Homo sapiens: one gene and its partner. The protein of the gene in region 1 purifies or fractionates together with the protein of each later gene. This does not show direct contact. Each region holds a gene or a part of one and is shown in the gene's direction. Other genes may lie near its edges.

Region 1 (3,500 bases):
ACCCCAGAGGACTTTACCCACGGTGGTGGGGCTTACCAAAATTAAGATTCTTTTGGTTTTTTTTGGCAGAGTTTCGCTCTTATTGCCCAGGCTGGAGTATAGTGACGCAATCTCAGCTCACCACAACCTCCGCCTCCCGGGTTCAAATAATTCTCCTACCTCAGCCTCCTGAGTAGCTGGGATTACCGGCATGCGCTACCACCTCTGGCTAATTTTTTTGTTTTTTAGTAGAGATGAGGTTTCTCCATGTTGGTCAGGCTGGTCTTGAACTCCCGACCTCAGGTTATCCGTCCGCCTCGGCCTCCCAAAGTGCTGGGATTACAGACCATAGTGCCCAGCCCGAAATTCAGATTCTAATCACTGGGATGGACAATTCCCCTCTGACTAGGGCTAGTCTAAATACTCCCTCTGTGGGTGCTGGCTGAATTCTGTCCTATGCTGCTTTCCACTGTGACAGGGCAGCACTGAGTTTCAATGCAAAATCCCACAGTCATTTCTCTCTCTCTCCCCCGAGCACACAGATTCTTTCTCCACCCCACACTGCATTGTGGGGGAATGTCAGGGGTGTTGGAGGGGCAGTTCAAGACTATCTTCCTTATCTTTTTTGGTGTCTTTTTCCTTGATAGGATGTCAAAACTGGGTACTGTGATCGCTTACCTAATTTTTGGTTCTTATGAAGGTGCTTTCTTGTGTGGATAGTTGTTCAATTTGGTGCTCCTTGTTGGGGATGATCACTGGAAGGTTCTGTTTGGCCACCATGCTCTGTCTCTTCTCCCCTGCCATCTCCTTTTTTTACTTAGGGGTTTAGAATGTCTAACTGACCAATATGTACAGTCAGGTCTCATTCTGAATTCACCTACTTAATGACCTTCCAAGCTGACTAGGCCCAGCGCTTAGTCCAGCCTCCATGACGGTCCCTCCACATCCTAATTAGCCTCCCTCCAGTTCATTTCACACAAAGCTGCTGTGTTCACCTTTCTGAACTATAAATCTGCCCAGTACTCTACCCTACTTAAAATTCCGTATAGACTGCCCATTTGCCCTGAGAATTAAAAGCCAAAGTCCTAAACGTAGCTTTTTAAAACTTTTTTTTTTTTTTTTTTAATTTTTAGATGGAGTCTTGCTCTGTCACCCAGGCTGGAGTGCAGTGGTGTGATCTTGGCTCACTGCAACCTCCGCCTCCTGGGTTCAAGCAATTCTCATATGTCAGCCTCCCAAGTAGCTGGGATTTACACGTGTGCCATCACGCCTGGCTAATTTTTTTTTTTTATCTTTAGTAGAGACGGAGTTTCACCATGTTGGCCAGTCTGGTCTTAAACTCCTGACCTCAAGTGATCCACCTGCCTTGGCTTCCCAAAGTGCTAGGATGATAGGTGTTAGCCACTGCACGCAGCCCTGAACATAGCTTTTAAGTTCCTTTATTGTCATATTCCTTTTGACGAGTCTATCATTTTCTGACTCACTTGTACATGTGTGTCTCACCCTTGGTCCAGCCATTGGTGCTTTTCTTTACTTCTTTATTTTTGTTATTTTATTTTATTTTATTATTATTTTTTAAATGAGACAGGGTATCACTATGTTGCCCAGGCTGGTCTTGAACTCCTGAGCTTAAGCAGTCTGCTTGTCTCAGCCTCCCAAAGGGCTGGAATTACAGTGATGAGCTACTGTGCCCAGCTCATTGGTGCTATCTTTTTTTTTTTTTTTGAGACGGAGTCTCGCTCTGTCACCCAGGCTGGAGTGCAGTGGCGTGATCTTGGCTCACTGCAGCTCCACTTCCCAGGTTCACACCATTCTCCTACCTCAGCCTCCCGAGTAGCAGGGACTATAGGCGCCTGCCACCATGCCTGGCTAATTTTTGTATTTTTAGTAGAGATGGGGTTTCAGCGTGTGAGCCAAGATGGTCTCGATCTCCTGACCTCGTGATCCGCCTGCCTTGGCCTCCCAAAGTGCTGGGATTACAGGCGTGAGCCACCGTGCCCGGCCCCCATTGGTGCTATTGTTTTATGTGATAGAGCCAGCTTCTCCCTTTTCTTTGGATTTTTAAACATACTCTTCCTTTTACTTAGACTATTCTCCATCCCAACACCTTTCCTAAACTTCTTTCACACCTTAGACTAGCTGACACTTTACTGAGAAACCTTTCTTTTTTATAGGTTGCTTTTTCTATAGACTCTCTTAGCATTTACTCATTTTATTGTGAAGTGTCTGATCTTATTTAAATGACAAGTATAAGAGGATAGAAACTATTTCATATTTTTCTCACCCAGCAGGCACAATTTCTGACATGTGGTAAGCACTCAGTAAATATTGAACTTTAGAGGCTAGGACATTTGAGTGCTTTGGTGACTGTGGTTGTGCTATATAGGTACTCTGTTATTGTTAGTTTATAGTAAAAGCATTACTCTTAAAGTATGAAAAAAGCCTTATTCAGAACATTTCATGCGTATAGTTAATATTACGTAGCTTGTGCTCATGGCAAAAATGTATTACTAAAGTTATTTAAGATATTTAAGTATAATTGTTTCCTTTATTTAGTTACAGCCAAGTTCTACTTCTGAATCTATGGATCAACTACTAAACAAAAATAGAGAGGGAGAAAAATCAAGAGATTTGATCAAAGACAAAATTGAACCAAGTGCTAAGGATTCTTTCATTGAAAATAGCAGCAGCAACTGTACCAGTGGCAGCAGCAAGCCGAATAGCCCCAGCATTTCCCCTTCAATACTTAGTAACACGGAGCACAAGAGGGGACCTGAGGTCACTTCCCAAGGGGTTCAGACTTCCAGCCCAGCATGTAAACAAGAGAAAGACGATAAGGAAGAGAAGAAAGACGCAGCTGAGTGAGTAAACCTGGAACTTAGACCATCCTGTTACTCAATTAACTTTTTTTTTTTTAAAGGCATTTAGGTCCTTCCAACTGTGAAGAATCCATCTGGACTTTTAGACTACTTTATACATTGCCCTTAGTTTACAAACAGCTAGTCCAAACAAATGACATCTTAAGTAAATGAGGTTATTGCACCCTGTGCTACTCTTCTGTTCTTCCCCTTTTTTGTACCCCAGGGCTAGAAAAACAAGGCATAAATTAAGAAAAGTTTTTCTGTAAATGAACAGGAGTTGAAAAATTATCAATTCAGGGGACCTATCTTTACTGGATTCCACTCATTAGTCACCCTCACTGTGCTGCTAGGTTGAAAAACTGCCACTGTCAAGGAGAGAAGCATGCGGTGCTTCTACTTGGAATTCAAAATATTTTTCATCAGAAACTGTGTTTTAGTTAATGTTTAGATTTGTTAAGATAGACTTAATTCTGCACATTCAGTATATTAATTAAATGGACTTTTAGGGGCTAACCTCAGAACTTAACTACCATTGACTTAGGTGTTTGGGTACCAAACAATCCAGTTAAAGCTGAAGTTTTGGAATGCAGCTTATTGATAAATTGGGGACTGCTTATTCTTGATTTGAGGCAATTTTTTTTTACAGCCATGACTTTTTCC
Region 2 (3,500 bases), on another chromosome or scaffold:
TAAATCTGAATTTTCCAGAAGGCTACCTACCTGAAGAAAAACAAAAAATAATTGCTTCATATTAAAATAATTTTTTCTTCTTATTGTGAAACAACAATCATAGCTATAATAAGATAATGATGTTTCATTCTTTTCTCTCAGGACTTTAATTTTTGGAAGTGAATAAAACTTGTTTTAGAAGACGAGATGACTACAGCTGTAGAGAGAAAGTATATTAATATTAGGAAAAGGCTGGATCAGCTGGGATACCGCCAGACTCTGACAGTGGAGTGTTTACCTTTGGTAGAAAAACTTTTCAGGTAAAGACAAAAATACAGTTTTCAACCTTTATGATCCCTAACCACTTACCTCATTTCTGATTGAACTTCATGCTTTGGTAAAGAAAAGGGTAGCTTTCCGGAAAGGCTTTCAATCATGAAGCTTATCTGTTTTTTCCCTGTCCTCAATCCAGGCCTTCCACACGGCAGAACTCTAAAGGCCACCACTCACGCTGTACTGTTCAAAGTCAACATTTCTGGGGGTTTTCTCTGTGAATGGAATTACAGTTTTTTGGGTTTCTGATATAATTGAGAGACACTTTTCCCTTAAGTTCTTTTTTTTTCCCCCCCTTAAGTTCTATGTCTGCTTCACTGGTCTTCAAATACAGTCATGGATAGTTTCATGACAGGGATACGTTCTGAGAAACATGTCATCATTAGGTGATTTTTTCGTTGTACCAACATCATAGGGTGTGCTTACACAAACCTAGATGGTGTCGCCTACCACAAACCTAGGCTATATGGTCTGTATCCTATGGCTCCTAGGCTACAAACCTGTATAGCATGTTACTATACTGAATACTGTAGGTAATTGTTAACACAGTGGTGCCTATTTGTATATCTGAACATATCTAAACATAGAAAAGGTATTGTGTTGTGCTACAGTGTTACAATGGCCAGATCTCATGAGGCAATAGGAATTTTTCAGCTGCCCCCATTATAAATCTTACAGGACTACTCTCCTTCCTATATGTGGTCTGTCGTTGACCAAAATGTCATCATGTGGTGCATGACTGTATTTTAAGCCTCTTTAGAAATATGTTTTTAGTTATTAGAAAGTTAATGAAATATTTCCTGGTATTTAAATTTTCTGTTCTTTTAGCGACTTAGTTCATACAACTGAGAGCCTTCGGCAATCAAAATTATCTGCTGTGAAAGCTGAAAAAGAAAGTGCCAATTTTGATTTTGTTTTGGAACCCTATAAACTTGAAAATGCAAGATTGAGTAGAGAAAATAATGAATTATACCTAGAGTTAATGAAACTGAGAGAACATTCAGACCAACACGTTAAAGGTAAGTGAAAATTTGATAATTTTTAAAATGCAATGTCTTTGTCCTTTTTATTTTAGAAGGAAAAGCTAACGTCTAATTTTAAAACTATTGATTAGAAAATATAGTAGTCCTACAGCTGGATGGTGTGTGCCTATAGTCCCAGCTACTCGGGAGTTTAAGGTGGGAGGATTGCTTGAGCCCAGGAGTTTGAGACCAGCCTAGGCAACATAGTGAGAACTTGTTTCAAAAAAAAAGAAAAGAAAAGAAAATATGGTACTCCTTCTGCTAATAGCCCCTGAAATACTATAGGGTATGTTGAAGAGTTCCTGAGAAGGAAAATAAATGTGCATTATATAGCTATGATAATCACTATATGTGGATTAAATTTTTAGAATTAAAAATTTAATTAAAATTTTAGAATTAAAATTGCCATAGGGAATATTAAATGCTGGATTTGAAGAAATGTTCTTGAAACAACTTTTGTTTTTCCCTTACTGAAAATAAAAGTAGTAAATAAGGTGAAAACCATGTATCATGCTGACTGTTTTATAGTCAGTCTTTGAGCTGTCAAGTAGAATAGGATGATTTCAAAGGTACTAGGGAAAAGATAATTATATGGTTATCTTTGTATGAATTATTCTTATATTCAGTAGAAAACTTTATCTAATCCATGGTATGAATTCATAATCCTTTAGCTTCAGACCCAATTTACTGGATCAAAAGCTATGATGTACGTTAGGCTAATACAGTAGCTGAAAAATGAAGATTCTCTTTTGTGCTTAGTGAGTTATTTGCAGTTTTGTTAATAATAGTAGAAGAAGGAATAAGTGTCAACTAAAGCATGCATAAGAAGCAGGTGGAGACTTTTAAATTGATATGACTTTTTGTATTTTGTGAAATGGAAAAACTTCATTGGATTTCTTGATCTTTAAAACGGTCTTTGAATCTTTTTCATTTTAAGAGTTGAAAACTTCATTGAAGAAATGTGCACGTGAAACAGCTGATCTGAAATTTCTGAATAACCAATATGCTCATAAACTCAAACTGTTGGAGAAAGAGAGCAAAGCTAAGAATGAAAGAATTCAACAACTTCAAGAAAAGAATTTGCATGCTGTAGTACAAACTCCAGGTAAATCGATTCCTTCTCGAGACAAATTATACACATTTAATCTTTTAACGATATTAACACCATTGACTAAAATAGGACTTTGGATTGGATTTTCATGCTTAGACTTTAGTGTTTGAAAATATATATTGAATAGACCGTAAACTTCTTGATTTATTTCTAATGATCCGGGTAGTAATTTATACGTGTGCTTAGAAATGTATGTAGTATTAGTTACTTAGATACTAGTCTAACTTTAATGCCCAGAGCTTTCTCTAATCAATATTTTAAATTCTTTTTTCTATTATTATTATCATTATTATTTTAGTTGTAAAAGTAATCCATACTCATTAAAGAATTTGGAAATTATGTACTTTCTTAGTTTATTTTACTATTTTTAGCATTATGCTTAGTAGTTATAGAGCAAGAAAAGGAAATGATGGGTCCAGGTGCAGTGGCTCACACCTGTAATCCCACCACTTTGGGAGGCTGAAGTGGGCAGATCATTTGAGGCCGCTTCAAGACCTGTGTGGGAACGTGATGAAACCCCACCTCTACCAAAAATACAAAAATTAGCTGGGCATGGTGGCGCAAGCCTATAGTTCCAGCTACTTGGGAGGCTGAGGTGGGAGGATTGCTTGAGCCTGGGAGGCGGAGGTTGCAGTGAGCTGAGATTGCACCACTGCACTCCAGCTTGGGTGATAGAGTGAGACCCTGTCTCAAAAAAAAAAAAAGAAATGATGGGCCACATCCAGAGTTGGTGATTGTTCAGCAGGTATGGGTTGGTGGTAGAATCTACAATATTAGTGACAAAATCATTAAGATAGCTGAACCATGGGATCAAGATTATGAAATTAAGTGAGTAACAGGGGGCTGCTGGATTATGAGGCTAGGTCAAGACAGATTAAAGAGCATGATGAGTACCAAAAGTAATTTGTTTGCTATGAAGATTGCAGTCAGAGTGGAATTTTGGAGTTGAAGAACTAGAAGCCAGCAGAGTTCTGAGTGATGACAAAGGCCAAAGTGTATCATCTTATTGTGTGCCTGAAGTTGAGGGGAGAGGAGACTCCTGAGAGTGGACAGAT

Evidence for each region. Proteins that work in one complex are often made in the same cells at the same time.
Region 2: the proteins of ATXN2 (region 1) and CEP135 purify together in Homo sapiens (co-immunoprecipitation; one large-scale study listed by IntAct). This does not show direct contact.

What each region holds. Positions count from the first base shown.
Region 1 is NC_000012.12:111,487,816-111,491,315, reverse strand, and holds part of ATXN2 (ataxin-2), read left to right. Parts: intron 1-2,535; coding exon 2,536-2,840; intron 2,841-3,500. UniProt on the Homo sapiens protein: Involved in EGFR trafficking, acting as negative regulator of endocytic EGFR internalization at the plasma membrane.
Region 2 is NC_000004.12:55,951,945-55,955,444, forward strand, and holds part of CEP135 (centrosomal protein of 135 kDa), read left to right. Parts: intron 1-141; 5' UTR 142-186; coding exon 187-299; intron 300-446; exon of another isoform or gene 447-527; intron 528-1,140; coding exon 1,141-1,331; intron 1,332-2,271; coding exon 2,272-2,439; intron 2,440-3,500. UniProt on the Homo sapiens protein: Centrosomal microtubule-binding protein involved in centriole biogenesis. Acts as a scaffolding protein during early centriole biogenesis.